Linked DNA regions of Homo sapiens: region 2 is linked to region 1. Evidence: fine-mapped expression QTL. A gene starts in region 1. The other region holds a variant in brackets. All regions are shown on one strand. Distances are between the middles of the regions. Region 1 holds the start of DOCK3 (dedicator of cytokinesis 3). Region 2 holds the start of HEMK1 (HemK methyltransferase 1, mitochondrial release factors N(5)-glutamine).

The links.
Region 2: its variant is fine-mapped to the expression of DOCK3 in whole blood (TOPMed, PIP above 0.99).

The regions. Positions count from the first base shown.
Region 1 is chr3:50,671,131-50,679,460 of GRCh38, reverse strand. It overlaps DOCK3 (dedicator of cytokinesis 3), which reads right to left and starts at 4,534. Exons shown (of 53, transcript NM_004947.5): 1 at 4,161-4,534. The coding sequence starts at 4,197. It overlaps LINC02019 (long intergenic non-protein coding RNA 2019), which reads right to left. Exons shown (of 2, transcript NR_183733.1): 1 at 8,285-8,330; 2 at 7,410-8,090. MIR4787 (microRNA 4787) reads right to left here and starts at 4,381; the gene lies at 4,298-4,381. RefSeq lists a silencer at 4,281-4,570.
Region 2 is chr3:50,567,953-50,576,282 of GRCh38, reverse strand. HEMK1 (HemK methyltransferase 1, mitochondrial release factors N(5)-glutamine) reads right to left here and starts at 6,761. Exons shown (of 11, transcript NM_016173.5): 1 at 6,709-6,761; 2 at 4,951-5,352; 3 at 4,482-4,573; 4 at 4,075-4,168. The coding sequence starts at 5,178. It also overlaps a transcript of C3orf18 not described here. RefSeq lists an enhancer at 6,837-6,956. The variant A/C (reference allele first, on the strand shown) is at 4,090.

The DNA.
Region 1 (8,330 bases):
AGGAAGTTAGGTAAAAATAATGCATAAAATACGCATTACTTTTTAAATAGGAAAAAATAAATATAACATTACAAAACTAAAATGTAAGGTCTTCAGATTGGTAATGAGAAAAATTTTTCATGTTCTACTAAGAGGGATTAATAAAAAATAAGCAATAAATGCCCTAAATTACTCAAAAATTTGCCTTAGCTGGGCACAGTGGCTCACAGGTATAATCCCAGTGACTTGGGAGGCTGAGGTGGGAGGATAGCTTGAAGCCAGCAGTTTGAGACAAGCCTGGGCAACATAGCAAGACCATGTCACTAAAAAAAATTTTTTTTAATTAAAATTTAAAAATTAGCCAGGCAAGGCTGGGCGCAGTGGTTCATGCCTGTAATCCCAGCACTTCGGGAGGCCGAGGCGAGCGGATCACAAGGTCAGGAGATTGAGGCCCTCCTGGCTAACATGGTGAAACCTCATCTCTACTAAAAATACAAAAACAAAATTAGCCGGGCATGGTGGCGGGCACCTGTAGTCCCAGCTACTCGGGAGGCTGAGGCAGGAGAATGGCATGAACCTGGGAGGCAGAGCTTGCAGTGAGCCGAGATCACGCCACTGCACTCCAGCCTGGACGACAGAGCAAGACTCCGTCTCAAAAAAAGAAAAAAAAAAATTAGGCAGGCAAGGTAGTAAACACCTGTAGTCCCAGCTACTTGGGAGACTGCTGCAGGGGGATCGCTTGAGCCCAGGAGTTCAAGGCTGCAGTAAGCTATGATCATGCCGCTGCACTCCAGCCTGGATGACAAGAGCAGGACCCCACCTCTCAAAAAAAAAAAATTGCCTAATGACAGCAGCAGAATAAACAAGATGACCTTCTGAAGCAGCTTCCACTTCTAAGACGTCAAACTAATACCTATGTACTCAAACCTTTACCACTTTTCTATTCAAGGAGTGTAATTACAAACATTTTTGTTTTAAAAACTGTTGGTGCTTGCTGCTCCTGCTGTTGCTCCTGTTAGAGGGTGAGAAAAGCATTTTCTTGGTTTTTGTATTCTATATTTGGTACTCTGGGTACAGTCAGTATAGGGAAAGACAGGTGTTTCACAAAAATAGCTGGATTTTTCTCACCTAATACACTTTAGAGCAGGAAGCTTCTTGGAAAGGTAGAATAAAGAATGGAAGGATGCAGGACTTTCCAAGCATTCATGGCAACAGAAAGGAAAGCAGAGATTCTCTAAGAGGGAAAGGGACATAAGAAGTCAAAACACGGGCGAACGGGTACAGTAAAGAACAGTACCTTACAGTACCACAAAAAGAAAGCAAGACAGTCAAGTATTTCACAAAATACTGCCCACTGCCAAGAAGAAAATTAAGAAAAATATACAATCGTTGAAGGACAAAAAAAAAAAAATTAACAACCTTTGGGATCCAGTTTCTTTATCTGTGTAATAATGATAACATTAAGACTACTCTGGGAATCGACATGGGGTTACCTAAGTGAGAGTCCCAGGCACACTGACAGGCCTATCACTGACCCTCAGAAAGGATAATGTCCTCCCCACTGCCTAAAATCACTCACAGAATATTACAATGGAAAGGGGGGCTCAGTCATCACCTCATCCTAAATGAATAAACCAAACAATTCAGTCATGTTATAACCTGTACAGAATTCCTATATTATAAAAAATTTAATAAGTATTACTACAGGATCTCAAAGCCTTATCAATGTCAAATACAAATGAACAGCTGCAGTGGAAAAAACCCTTTGTACTGCTGCAACAGGGGACTCCTTCCCTCACTAACATCAGGGCAAAAGGAGGCCCTCGAGGCCCTCCTCCACAAATTTCTCCAAATTGGTAGGAAGTAAGTGTAAGGGGTTTCCCTCCTTGCTATGTGATTATAGGTTGACAAACAAAGACACAAATCTGTGCTCCAAGTTAGTCATAAAAATCAAAGCTGAAACTCAAACATTTTCTCACAGGAAAATGATAATGGTTATATTTTCAAGCTAGCCCTCATAGCAATCAAATGATGCAGCAAAAATGCCGTTTTAATTGACTATTTTTCTCATAAGTATAATGTATAAGCTACTTTATAAAGTGGATTTTATGAAAAGTTCTAGAAGTGTAGCCCTAACATCCTTATGAAAAAAAATGTGTCCTGAGTTTTAAACAATTTACACAAAAACTTTTAGATCATAACTAAGGAAGGGACAGTGGAAGACTGTGAGATAAATAGAGAGTTGCTTGGTTTGGTAGAAAAGGCATCTAAGTTATGCTAAACCACAGCTGCTATGAAAATGTCTTCAGTGTAACTGTCTCTCTCATTTAGCAAGCATTAAGCTCTGCCCTGAGCCCAATGCTGTGGCCCTCCAAAGGGAATAACAATTTTTCTAAAGCTAAAAACACAATCCTAGGAATGCAAGAATTTCGTTGCATCTTGCTGGGAAAATCACACACCAAATCCTAGTGCTTTGAGATTCACATGTACCTATCTTGATTACCTTGCACTGGCTCTGTCTCAGAACACACTTAGTGTTATTAGTCTAAATACTAAGGGAAAAGAAGAAACTATTAAGCATTCAGCACGTTCTCATTTCACTTTCACAATCCTGTAAGATAGGTAAACATTATCCCCAATTTATACATTAATAAAATGACGTTAAATGATGTTAAATTACTTGCCCACACCACCAGTAAAGAGAAGCTAGGACTCTGAATTCCACTTTGTCCACTATTCAAGGGCTCCTCCCCCCACGCCCCCACCCCCGCCAAAATAGGGCTCCTCCCCCCTCCAAAAAAATCAATCATGGGGTGCCACTGGAGAGTTGACCACTCACATCAATTATTTGTTATTCTAGTTCAGCAGTTCTGGGAGCGAGTTATGGAGAAGATAAACCACCAACTCCTCACTTCACAGAATCAACTCAGTATTCAGGGAATACTCTAAGAGAAGGGGTAAAATGTCCCTAGAGGTGAATCCCAGCTCTTCGCATCATTTCTCAATTCCTTCTCAATAGAGACTCTAGGACCAGAGCTCCCTTTATCACCTCCATCCTAACATACCTAATTGTTTCAGAAAGTTACCTTTTAAAACAAGATCTTCTACCAGAATAGAAGACCTCTCTGCTGGTCCTCGAATTTAAATAAATTCAATTTTCACACGATAACCTGCCTGATAGCATTCCAAAACATTCGTTACCACTGCAGTTTCAAGTTATTTTGTAGTGAATTGTGAACTAAATCTTGATTAAATTGCGGTAAAGATGGGAAACAAAAATCTATGTTTAGACAGGTTTCCTATCTAAAATTTTCCATTACGAGCTTAGGAAAAACAAAACCTGTACACTCAACATTTTAAATCTGTTTCTAACTGAACAAGATGATAGGTGATGCAATGAGGCTTAACTCTATCATGTAATTGCCACAAAACACTAACATTGTAAAACATTCAATACTTTAAATTACTGAATATTCTTTTTAAAGAAGTTGAATATTGTAAGAATTATTTAGCTTCTGGAGTTTAACACTTACAACATTAAAAAAAGGTTTCTAAGAGGAATAAGGTCTCATCTGAAAACAGGGTTTAAAAAAAAAACCGTATAAACATTGATACATGTCCAAAAACATTTCCCATCGTAAGGTATTATTTCTAATACTAAAGGCAAAACAAATTAAAACAGATCAAACATTTGCAGTCAAATGTCCAAATTTTTGAACTGGGAAAATGATGTCAACGTTTTTCATCCGTTTTCTTGTAAGGTTCCAGATCAAAAATAAACAGCCATCGGGCTCATCAATTCAGGTGCGGAAACTCATTAAAATCGAGCTTTTGGAGGGGAGAAAACATATTCCCAGAATTTGGTTTATCGGGTAAAATTGCCCCGTGGCCCACACCAGAAACCTCGGGCAACTGCCCGGGCCTTGCCCACCCCTCCCGCGGGCCGCACCTGCCAAGGCCGCACCGCCAGCGCCCCCTGCCGCCCTCTCTGCACAGAGACCCGCGCCCACCCCCGCACCCGCACCCGCACCCGCACCTGCCCCCACCCCGCGCTCGCCCCGCGCCGAGGCCGCGCAGCCTGCGGGCAGTGGCGGGGGCACGAGGATGCGAATCCAGGCGGGGCCGGGAGCTGGGCGCGTCCCCCAGAACCCCCGCCACGGCCAGGCCTGAGCCTCACCTACCTACGCCGTATTTCTCCTCCTCCGTGGGGGTCCACATGGCCGTGCCGGGCGCGGCCCCGCGGGCGCGGCGACCGGGCGACAACGCGGCGGGGACGGCCGCGGGCCCGGCTGTGGCGCACCGCGAGTCGAGGCGGGGACGGTCAGGCGGCGCGGGGCAGTGGGCGGCGCATCCCTCACAGGCCGTCCGGGATGCCGCCGCCACCCCCGCCACGTCTGGACCGCGAGGCTCCGCGGGTGGCCCAGCAGCCCCTGGCGGCGCGGGCGAAGGCTCGCCACCTGTCCGTCGCCGCTGCTCCCGTGCCGCCGCTTGCTTCTTCACAGCTCCGCCGCCCGGCTCCCGGCGCCGCCGCGGCTCGGCTCGCCCCAGCGGGCTCGCAGGACGCCCGCGCATGCGCCACTCCCTGCCGCGCAGGGGCTCGCGCTGCCCGGGCTCGCGCCGTCCCGAGCCCGCGCGCGAATCCACGCGCCGCTGCTGCGCGCCAGCGGAGGGAAATCCGCGAGAAGCTATTGGACTGCCCGGCCCCGGACCGGCTTCTAGAATCGCTGGTCCGGGGCCCTCAGCTGCAGCAAACCCCGGAGGGGGCGAAGCCGGTCAGGTGGGCGACTCCCTCTACCCGGACTCCCCACTCGCTTCCGCTTCCAGTGCCTCCTGCCTGCGCCCCGAGATGGCCACAGGCCTCCTGGTCGGAGAGGGGAGATCCAGAAAAGGAGGACACGACACCATTTTCAGACCCATCCCAGTGTCACCCACAGTGCTGTCGGAAAGGTCCCCGGAGCCACCCTGTGCATTCCCAGGGCCCGCAGGATGGAGTCGCCACGAGGGAACCAGGTGGGGTGCACTCGTGCCCCTCTCTCCTGGATCCCCTGTGGGCTGAGGCCGCTGACACCTCCTGGGTTCTTGCTTCTCTGAGATGGCCTGAGTGGTGAATGTTTGGGGCCAGAACAATCAACAGCCGCCTTGCTAGTAAGGAAGAGCTTCATTGGGCCCTTCGTGTTCCTACCCAGGACACGGCATCTGCTGCTCCTGGGTGTCTGCCTCCCTTGGAGCCCTAAGAACTGGCTCCTACCGGAAACTTTCCTCCTCTCTCTCCTCCCTAAGAATCCATTCATTCTGATGCCTGTAAATGTCACCTTGTGACCCCCAAGTCAACCACTTACCAAAGAACAGGAACTGCAGGACTTCTCCTTTCCACCTACATTTGGACCACATGCTCTAATCCCAGCAGATTTGCCCATCTCTGTCACTAGCACTACTAAGTCAAAACCCTGGTGTCATCCTTCACTAGCACTCTCAGACACCACCACTCTTCAAAGCCCAGCTCAGCCCCTCACCTCCAGGAAGCCTGCCCTGACCCATAGTCTCCTTTCCTTCTTTGTCTGGAATTGGAGCTATGTTCGGTTTGTCTTATTTCCCTTATAAGACTGTCAGCTCCCAGAAGGCAAGCTCCAGGCTAAAATCAACTTTCTAAACCCTCACCACCAACCCAGCACCTGTTGTATAGTTGTTGCATGGGAAGCCAGACTAATAGAAGAATATCTTGCAATCAACAGATCTTGTTGATTCTTCGTTCAAAGTGTCATGATTGGTAACTCCTCCCAGGCCTGACTGTGCTCCCCTGGGTTATGGCCACCCCTTCCCACCTTCGGACCTTTAGGCTCCTCCTCTCACTAATCATAGCTGCCCACTCCCGCCCAGAAAAATGTCTGTTCTGTGAATGATAGAATTTCTCAATAGCCAGGTACACTTCTTTTTAGGGGTAGCAGGGGTGTCCAAGAACATAACGAAAGAGCTAACTGTTCCAAGAAGATAGACCCCTCCCCGGTGGCCACCATGGAAGTATTCTATGGAATGAAGCCACATTCTTACAAAACTCTCCAGGTAGCTATTCAACAAGTGGGGCTGAGCTACGCAGGCCTTCAGGGAACAACCTTAAAGCTCTTATTTCATCCTCTAAGTTCACTCCCTTGTCTGCTGTATGTGATGACAGTCACAGAGCCTAAGGGCCAGTTTTTCCAAAGTTTATACTCTTGTTCCCAGTCTGAATCCATCTTAGATTATGGCTTTCCCAGATGAAGAAAATTCTCCATGATTGCACACCTCAGCTCCAGGGTGGAAGGGCATTAAACCCAACCAGGGAAGGGAAAAGAAGGGACCAAAGTGAGAAGGAAGGGACTTAGTAAGCCTGGACTCCTACACTCTTGCTGTTTGTATAAATTTAGATTGTTTTTGTGAGTTGAAGCAAAAGGGCATAGCACACATTGGCCTTCAGCAGGACCATGCACCTGCTCTCTTATCCCCCTAGCATCTGCTCTGATCCTTTCCTTCCTCAGGCTCCCAGTCCACTCAACACACCACACACACACTCTCTCAGCATATGAGCTGCCTTCCAGCTTGCCTCTGAAAATCGAGACCCTCAGCACAGTAACCTCCCCTCCTCTCCAACTGCTCTTCTTTGTGTTCTCGCCACCACCAGGCTCACTGCCTGCTACTTCTCAGGATCCCCAACTATCATTGCCCTGTCTCCCATTTTCACCCTGACCTGCTCCACAGACTCCTGCGGTCCCAGGAAGACCTGCCCTGTTGGTACCCTCATCCCCCCATTCCCTCTCTCTTCCTCCTCTCTCCATCTGACTACAGAGGAGAATCATCCATTCCAAATCCTTTTATTTCAATGTAATTCATTTGATTCTCACCACCTGAAGGTCTGCGTTCTGACCCTGTCACCTCCTGGAAACTACTTTCCCAGAATTCCCCAGGGCCATCCCAACTTCAGACCATTGCCTTGTTCTGGCTGGGTTTTTGCATAGAGTGTCCCTCAGCTTGTGTCCTCTACTCTTGAAACCCACACATCTGCATCATGCTTCAAGAGCTGTCTCAGGGCCACTTTCCTGAAGAAGGCTTCCCCAACTGCCCTCAGTTCAGCTGGATTTTTTGCACCCATTATGACCTTTTCTGTAGCACTTACTCATTCCACCCTTCTCCAAGAGATCAAATGGGTCTGCTTCTCACATTGGCAAACATCTGTTTTTTTCTTCAGTGACAAGGATTGTTCTTCAATTATTTTTACCTTACACAGAGACTAACATAGTGCCTACCACCTAACATGAATTTAACATACACTCTTGGGTGAATAATCTCCCTGTACGTTTTCTGAGACCATAATGAAATAGGTTGGAAGAGAGAACTGAGATGTTTACCTCAGCAAGTCACAAATCGGCAAACTCAGAAACTCTAATTAATTAAATTTCTTTGTTATAGACATATTGGTTTTAATTAAAAATTCATTGCAATGTCTTATTGAGTAGCTATAAAAAAGATAAACATGATAGAGCAATTTAAAAAACAAAGTATGCAAACAGTTTCACTTATCATGTCACTGTTACTTTTGGGTTTAACTCATTACCTTAGATGATAAATTGCAACTCGATGAGCAAGGAAGGAATCAAGTTTTCTGCAGGAAATTCGTTAAGACTGGTGGCTGTTAAAAATAGCCGATACCCAAACAAATTTTATAAATAATTTACAAGAAATGCAGACAGCATCATCTTTTTCTCTTAGAGTTTAAGTTGATCAATAATTTTTTATCACAAGCAAACTCCATAATGGTAAATCCCCCATCACCTTTGGTGAATGATACTGGCCCTCTACAAAGCTCGATGAGATACACTTCATATCTTCTCTCCTTGTTTTCTGCTGCCTAGAGAATCACACAGCAGCATTTAAGGAGCCAGCCAGTCTGATGACTCAGCTCATAAAACAATGTGTGGCCACAAAGATGATGTTTATCCATGAGCATTCTGGAGGCTCTTGCTACTGAAGTCGGCAAGCAGTGGATAAGTGGCACACGATGCTCATTCTCAAGAGTTTCTGGCAGCGGTGCCAACACAGCACTCACTTCCCTCTCTCAGCAGTTGATTTCATCTGATGCTCTGTCCAAACAGAATGGTAGAAAAAAACATCAGAGAAATGCAGTGGGTATAGAGGCAAATCCAAACAAAGTGCAGGTGATAGTGGTGACATTCTGCCTTCTCTTGATCAGAAGGTGTCAGCAGCTGGAGCTTATCCCCATATGAACCCCAGGGTCAGGTAAATGGAAGACTTAAGAACACGTTACCCAACTTACCTCTGCCCTTCTGGGTTCCTCAAGGAGGGGGTCTGCTGTGGTTAGT
Region 2 (8,330 bases), 100 kb after region 1:
AAGGCCCCACCTGAGCCTGGCCTGTGGTTTCATGGTGGCCAAGAATCAGGAGCTGGTGTGTCCCCAGCCTCCTCACAGAGCTGGGCTTGAGAGGCCCCCAGGGAGGCTCCTAGGCCAAAGGGACAGGGAATTCCCTCTTTTGGAGGAGATGGGCCATGGGGGGACATGGTCCTGACTAAGGACCTGAGGGCTGTGGCATACACAGGCATAGGTCAACAGGCATGGGTGCAGAGGGAGGTGCCTGACTGCACTGTACCTGCCCTGGCAGCAGGAGGACATTTTCAGACACTGTCACTTTGGAAACAAGAGGGTTTCAAGCCTTGCCTACCCAGCCACTGCCTGCAAGGACTATGCCTGTAAACCAACATAGGGTAGGGGTAAAGGGTGGAAGGCTCCTGCCGTCCAATGGCCAAAATTTTTCTAACCAGCAGTGGAGTGGGACACCTGAGTAGCCAGGCATGAGACAAGGAAAGGGCAGTGTAGCTCCTTCTCAAAGGCATCCCTTTGGATGTGGGCAGAGAAGCCCCCCAGAGGGTCAGGACTCCTGGGACCCCAGGTCTCAGGAAAGACTGGCTCAGGGAGCTGGGGATGGTGGGCAGCAAGTGGGTGCTTCCCTGATCTGAAAAGAGGACTACCTATTCCAGAAAGCCTTCCTCAAGCCTGGGCCAGGCTCTACCACGGCTTTCTCCACCCTGAGCCTAAGGTCTAGCCTAAGGATGGGGTGTGCCTCTCCCACCAGACGCCATAATAGGAAGACCTGAGGTCTGACTCATCGCAGTGTGTCCCACACTGGCAGGGCTTGGCCCACAGACAAACCTCTTGGCTACTTTCTTTTTTTCTTTTCTTTTCTTTTTTTTTTTGAGACAGAGTTTCGCTCTGTTGCCCAGGCTGGAGTACAATGGCGCGATCTTGGCTCACCGCAACCTCCGCCTCCCAAGTTCAAGCGATTCGCCTGTCTCAGCCTTCCCAAGTAGCTGGGATTACAGGCATGCACCATTGTGCCTGGCTAATTTTGTATTTTTAGTAGAGACAGGGTTTCTCCACGTTGGTCAGGCTGGTCTCGAACTCCCGACCTCAGGTGATCTACCCGCCTCAGCCTCCCAAAGTGCTGGGATTACAGGTGTAAGCCACAGCGCCTGGCCCTCTTGGCTACTTTCTAAGTGATGGGCAAGCTCTCTGTGGCACCACCCTCTGAGTCTCACACCCCCAGGTCTCCCCCACACCCCAATGCCATCAGCCAGGCCCAATGGAGCAGAGGGCTCCAGATCACTCACACCCATTTTCCACATAAGTTCCCCAGTGCTGGGTTCCAAAAAGCATCTCACCCTTCCAGGCCCCCAAACCCAGCAACAATGTTCACCCACCCTGAGGGTGGCAAGTCCAAAGCAGGCAGAACTTGGCCAGCAGGTCCAACCCTCCATGTTCCAAGCCTCTTCTGCACCTAACAAATGATTGCCTGTGGGTGAGGGGGCCCAGTTCCAGCAGGAGAGAGTGTGTATTCACTAGCTCTCACCAGCCCTGTGCCAGGCACTACTGGAGACCACTAAGGTACTTGTGGCAAGCTTAGCCTGCAAGGTTGGGCCAGGTACAGAGTGAGCAGTATAGGGCTGTGGCTGAGAGCCTGTGGTCTCAGTGGTGAGGCCACAAGCTGAGAGGTTGGTAGGGTGACCAGTTGTTGTCAGGTGTGTAAGCCTCTCTTGGTTTCCTGGTCATAGACAGACCTACTCTGGCTGGAGAATGACCCCTCAGCCAGCCACACTGGCCAGCCACCTCACAGAGATACTCAAAGACCTCAAAGACACACACCACGTATGTGGATGGCCACCTTGGGGAGGGTAAGAAGCTAAGAAACTGAGCCCCTGCCACCACTAGTGGCCTCTTGTTTGCCATAACACTCCAGAGCACCGGAAACTCATCTTGGTTGTAGAGCCACCTGGGGCAGGGGTAGATAACAGCCCAAGGAGTCCAGAAACTTTCTCTTCTCCTCCTAGTGAAGAGCCTCCCTCAGCCTAACGCTGGTGGCTCTTTCGGCAAGACTAAAAGCCATGCTGGTCACAGGCTCAGGGCACCCCCTCCAGGTGAATATGGTAAGAATCCAAGAACAGGGTGGGGCACAGACGCATGCGGGAAAGAGGTGAGGGGCAGGCAGTTGTTGGCTCTGCCTAGAACTGCTGCCCCAACATGGACTCCATACCCCATCAAGAGGCTGGCCCAAGGCCTGGGCAGAACCTAAGTGCCCATGAGTACCCTCTATTAGGATGGCATCCCTGGTGGGGCAGACCCAGGGAGGTGGCATTGCCTCCTTCAAGCCAATCACAGACAAAACACTGAGCCTCCCACAACCTGTACAGCCTCACAGCAGGCTGGGTGAGAATGGTTCACACCCCCAGCCCTGAGTTTCCTACTGTATTCACTGCCAGGCCAGGGGCTGAACCACCTTCTCACCCTTAGGGAAAATGCAACTCACTGGGCACATGCCTCCTGCAAGTTTGCACTTCAGACTCCCCTTTCATCAGAAACCATCCCCTGCACCCATTCTCACTACTCCCTGCCACAGGCCACGTCCTCTTGAGTTCTTGGTAAGGCATCCCCCGATGTGGCTTTACATTGGGGTGAACCTGGTGAGTTCTCAGAAATGTCTGCACAGCAAGATGAGCACCTGGCCTCCCAATCGCAGCATCTCCCCTCACCCCACCCCTTGCAGTAGAGCTGCTCTCTTGGCCCAGACCCATCCAAGAATCAGGGGGCCACATGGGAGCCAAAGTCCACACTTGATACTCAGAACCCTGGCACATATGGCTGGTGCCAGGTCAGCTCTGAAGGAACTCAAAAGTCACCATGCCCTGACCCTGGGAAGCCGGAGACAGCAAATGATCTCTTCGCCAGAGATCACGTGTTTTCAGGAGCCACAGGTAAGCCTCCCAAAGTCTGCAGGTGGCAGGCCACACCCTGCTCTGGGTCTCCATACTGTGTCCTAGGTCATGCCAATCCCAGATGGGGCAGCCCCATGTGAGGGATGGGGCTCTGAGCTGGGAGTCAGGAAGTCCACGTGCTGCCCCCATGCTCCCTTCCTTGACAGCCCTGTGACTTCAGCAAGGCCTCAGATTCCCTACTGTCCCTGCCCTGACACTGGGCAGTGAAGCAAGGACCTGGCCTCCCAACCACATGATATGGAGAGGAGAGGGGTCAGAGAGTTTCTTGGCTAGGGGACAGAAGCTGAGAAAGTGAAAGAAGGGTTTGGGGCCCCCTGGCCACAGCAGGGGAATGGGAACTAACCTTTCCCAGAAATGTTTGTGTGCCTAGGTCTTTCTAGAAACACTCCTTCTCAGAACCTGGCGCCCTCTGGCTTGCCCACCAGCTCTCACCCAGCTCTACTCCCTGGTCTGCGCCCTCTGGCTCCCAGCTCTGTCATCTACAAGGTCAGAGGGGAGTCCAAGAAGGGCCATATAAAGCGTCTCTTCCAGGACCAGGGTGCCTTACCAAGGGATAACACACTTGCGCCACACATCCCTAGTCCTAGTAATTTGAGGGACAACACAGGTGATTACCAGACCAGTCAGTAGACCTAAGAGGGCCACCAGATTCTCTGGGCTGGAGGGCTAACCCTCTCATCATCTGGGCCCAGAGATGGCAGGAGGGCAGTGACCTGCCCAAGGTTGCACAGCTGATACCAGGTCTCCAGGTGTCCGGCTGGAGCCCTCTCCACTTCCTCCATGCCTCCTGAGAAGCTGCTGGAAGACATTTGTTCCCTGTGGGTTGGGTGAGCCATGGGATGGCTCCCAGAGAAATGGCAGAACAGGCTAAGTACTTGGGCAGCACTATTTGAGGCACTCTGGGCCATTGCCAGACCTAGAGGCTGGGTTGATAGCTTGGAACATAACAGTCAAGGGGACCAACAGGAATCCTCTGTCCTCTGGGCTCTGCCAACACAGTCAGAGAGGAAATACATGTCTAGAAAGGCACTGTCCCTGAAGTCATGGGGCCCCAGTGCCCCCTGGAGGAAGCCTGGGGTAAGACTGGTGCCCTGAACTCCACCATCATCCTGATCCTGCCTTGCCCTGGTGGCACACCTACCTCTGTTTCTGGCCG[A/C]GGAATAAACACTGGGGGCACCATCCTTAGGCTGAGCCCCTGGAAGTCCCACTCTCCAAGGATGTACTGCACCGGCATCCTGCAGAGGGGGCAGCTGGGTGGTCATCAGGGACAGAGCTAGGACCAACAGGACCATGCCTGGGTTGAGATACCACTTGTGGCCAAAGGTATCAGGCAAGACCATGTCTCCAGGGCCTTGGGACTCCTGAGGCAAAACCCTCCCTCCCTCCCTTCTTCCTATTCAGTACCCCGGCCCCACTCTTGCCACTCCTGCACCCCAACACCTCCCTAGTCCTTGGACATTCTCCTCCTCCCTGAACTTGGTGGGGATAGGGGAGGCTGGACTGCTGCTCCCTGAACACATCCTTCAGGTCTGATCCATGGGTGCTCACCTCTGCAATCGACGGCTACTCAGCTCCCGGATACACTGTAGTTGCTGAGAGGTCAAGGGCTGGGTCCAAAGTGCCGGCCTCAGGCTCTGAAACTGTCCCCACAGAGAATATAAGTGGCTGGCTCACTGGGCCCAAGGCCCCCAACCCAGGTGTCTTATGTGGATAATGCCTGCCCAGCACTGGTCTGGAGGCCCAACCCTCTCATCATCTGGGCCCAGAGGGGGCAGCATCCTGCCTAAGGTTACACAGCTAACACCAGGCTTCCAGGTGTCTATCCCAGAACACTTAGGCAGAGATATATTCATTCATCCAACAAACTGTTACAGTGTGTGCCAGGCGCTAAGACGTTCCTTCAGAAAAATCCCATCAGTCTCAGCTAAGCACTCTTAGTGAACAGAAAACCTGGATATCCCTTCCCCAAGTCCTCCCTCCTCCCTCTTCCTGTCCTCTTGACAACACTAAACTTAACTGTTTTGGCTCCAAGGACATGAGCCACGATGTACTCACTGGATTCCCGGGCCTCAGGGATACCCCTCTTCTCAAAGACCCCAGTCCAGTGGCTGACCAGTTCTATGGCACTGGATAACCCAGCCAGAGGTGGTTGGGGTTGCCATGAGCTGAAGGCCCAGCCCCGGGTACTTCCCCTCCTCCCTGGGCCAGACAGGAGGGCCCACAGCATTCGGCCCCAAAGCTCCATGTCTCAGGGAAAGGTTCTCCAGAGTGCTTCCAGGTTCCCAAGTCTGCTTTATGATGTCAGCTGCTGAGGTGAGTGCTGAGAGTGGCCCCTGGACCCAGCTGGGTGGAGATGGAGAGGTCACAAGCTCTGGTGCCCCAAAATGGCTCTGGTCCTCAGATATAGTTGGTTGCCACCCTGGGAGTGAGAGGAACCAGGAAAGCAGGTGAGCCTTGTATGACACCCCCCCTTCTACCAATACATTGCCTGAGAATAGTTGTGCTCTTGCTCTGACACCCCCTTGACTCCATTTAGAGCCTTACCCACCTATTTGATCATTCTTGTCTTGGCCACTTACGTTTTCTTCACATTTTTAGCTGGAGTGGGCTGAGCCCATAGCTCAGTCTCTGCTAATAAACGGGTTGGTGGTAGGTTAGGGCACATATGTGGGGACAGGACAGATCTGTGTCTAACCTAGCGTGTGTGATCTTGAGCAAGTCATTATTTCTGATTTTCACTTTCTTAATCCATAAGATGGGGGAAAATCACACCAAACCCATGGCAAGCAATGCATTAGTCTATGAATATCCAAGGCCTGGGAGGCAGCTCAACACACAGCAGGGACCAGATGTTACATGATCTTAACTGATGTTACAAGAGGCAGATGATTGCCTTTAATTGGGAGCTTTGAATCTGACATTGTGTGTGTACTGTCATGGATGTACATGCTGAAAATTTCCTCCTAATTTAACCTATAATCCGGGACATCAGCGTAAACCACCAACTAAAAAATTTACAATTGTATATTTAAAGAGGTCACAAGCAAGTTTAACTGAAGGTTTAAAATCAGCGGTCCCCTTTGCTTCCAGATAAAAGTCCAAACTAGCGTTTATTAAGCACCTGCTAAGTGCCACATCTTCAGATACAAGTAGGGTCAGAGAAGGGAAGCGACTTGCCCAGCGTCACTCAGGTAGAAACTGTCCCAGGCAAGCTGGGCACGGTGGCTCACGCCTGTAATCCCAGCACTCTGGGAGGCCGAGGTGGGCGGATCACGAGGTCAGGAGTTCGAGACCAGCCTGGCCAGCATGGTGAAACCCTGTCTCTACTAAAAATACAAAAAATTGGCCGGGCATACTGACGCGCACCTGTAGTCCCAGCTACTTGGGAGGCTGAGGCAGGAGAACTGCTTGAACCCAGTTCAAGCAGGCGGAAGTTGCAGCGAGCCGCGGTCATGCCACTGCACTCCAGCCTGGGTGCCAGAGAGAGACTCCGTCTCAAAAAAAAGAAAAAAAAGACTGTCCCAGGCAAGACACGAACCCGAGTCCACCAGACTCCAGAAGCGGCTCTTGCACCAGTGCGCCGTCCCAGGAGCCAAGGCCCGAAGTCAGAAGTGTAAACTCCCTCACAGCTACGCACCGCATTGTTAACGACCCAGATGAGGCCCCCTCTCTCCAACCCTGTTTCCCCATCTGCACTATGGAGAATGGTACCGGCCAGGTCTCCAGGCGGTTGCAGTCGAAACACCCCGTTCCGATCCCCACCTCCCATGCATACCTGCCTGAAAGGCTGCCCCACCCACCCACCAGCCGGAGAAGCTGCCCCGAACTGGACGCCCGGACGTGCGTGGCCCGTCGCGCGCTCCCTCGGACGCCCCGCTTCCGGGGTCGGCGCCTTTAAGAAAAGGCTCGGGCGGACGCCGTAGCCCAGCTTCAGTGTTCCTATCGCTGGTGGGTTCCTCCCAGGAGACCCCTGCGGATGGGTGGGGAGGCTGTGAATTCCACTCCCTCTACGCTCGCAGGCCTGCATACAGGAAAGTGCGGGGATGTGTGTGGGGTTGACCCTTGGGGGCCCGGACCTGCCGGTCTTCCTTAAAATCACAGCAGGGATTTGGCTCCAGCCCAAGGGGATTGCTCCGAGCTGGCGTTTAGGAACCAGGCCGGGAGGTGTGTGGGCGGAGCCCAGTAGCCTGCCGGAAAGGGGGCGTGTCACCAGAGGGCCCGGGTGTTCCGGCGGGGACCAGATGTCCGGGGGCGTGGTCTATCTTAGCCTGGGGGCCGGGTGGAGCTGTGCATGGGCGGGTTCCAGTGTTGAAGGCTGGTCCAACTTTGGGGTCCAGTCCCAGTGTCGTGACCCTACCGAGGTCAGTGGCCCGAGCCCACCAGGGGGTCGGCCGACTGGCGGCCAGACCCCAGGGGCCGCTCTTTTACCGATTCGAATCTTGACTCTATTGGCAACTCCTCCAGGTGTTGGGACCTCTGGACCTCAGTTGCGCCTTCTATAAAATACTCGGCAGCGTCTCGCAAAGTGTGTCTTGTCAACATCTCCCCACCAGAAAGTACTGTTAACTAGAACACTGTTAACTACTTTTTTTTTCTTTTTTTCTTTTTTTTTTTTTTTTTTTTTGAGACGGAGTTTTGCTCTTGTTGCGCAGGCTGAAGTACAATGGCGCGATCTCTGCTCACTGCAACCTCGGCCTCCGGGTTCAAGCCATTCTCCTGCCTCAGCCTCCCAAGTAGCTGGGATTACAGGCGTGAGCCAACACGACCGGCTAATTCTGTATTTTTAATAGAGACAGGGTTTCACCATGTTGGTCAGGCTGGTCTCGAACTCCTGACTTCAGGTGATCCATCGCCTCGGCCTCTCAAAGTGCTGGGATTACAGGAGTGAGCCACCACGCCCGGCCTTAAACTGCTATTAAACATGCTGTTTCCCTGCCTCCTTCCCAGACCGGGAGACACAGGGGCGTTTGCATTTGTACCAGGCTACCCGGTGACTCCCATAAACTACTTTGAAAACCGGCGGATCAGGAGTATCTGAGGGCTCCTTCCCTGAGCTGATCATGCCGTGGATGGAAGCTATTGTGAGGGTATATGTAGACTTGCCTGGGTCGGGGTGCCCAATAATAAATCCACCCCACTCTCAACTTCTGTAGACGAAGATTCCCCATCTTCGTCTAGAACCCTCACACCAGAGGACCCGTCTGAGTAGAAAGCCAAGGTTCAGGAAGGGAAAAGCAGTTTCTTCAAGGTCACAAAGTCAGCCAGAGTTCAGTGCAGGCCCAAGGACTCCCAGTCCAGTGCTCTCCCCAAGTCTCCTCTGTACATCCATCCGCGTTTTGGGGGCTTGAGTCTGTCCTGGCACGGGTAGCTGGCAGGGGTCCCGAGTTCTGGCCCGGA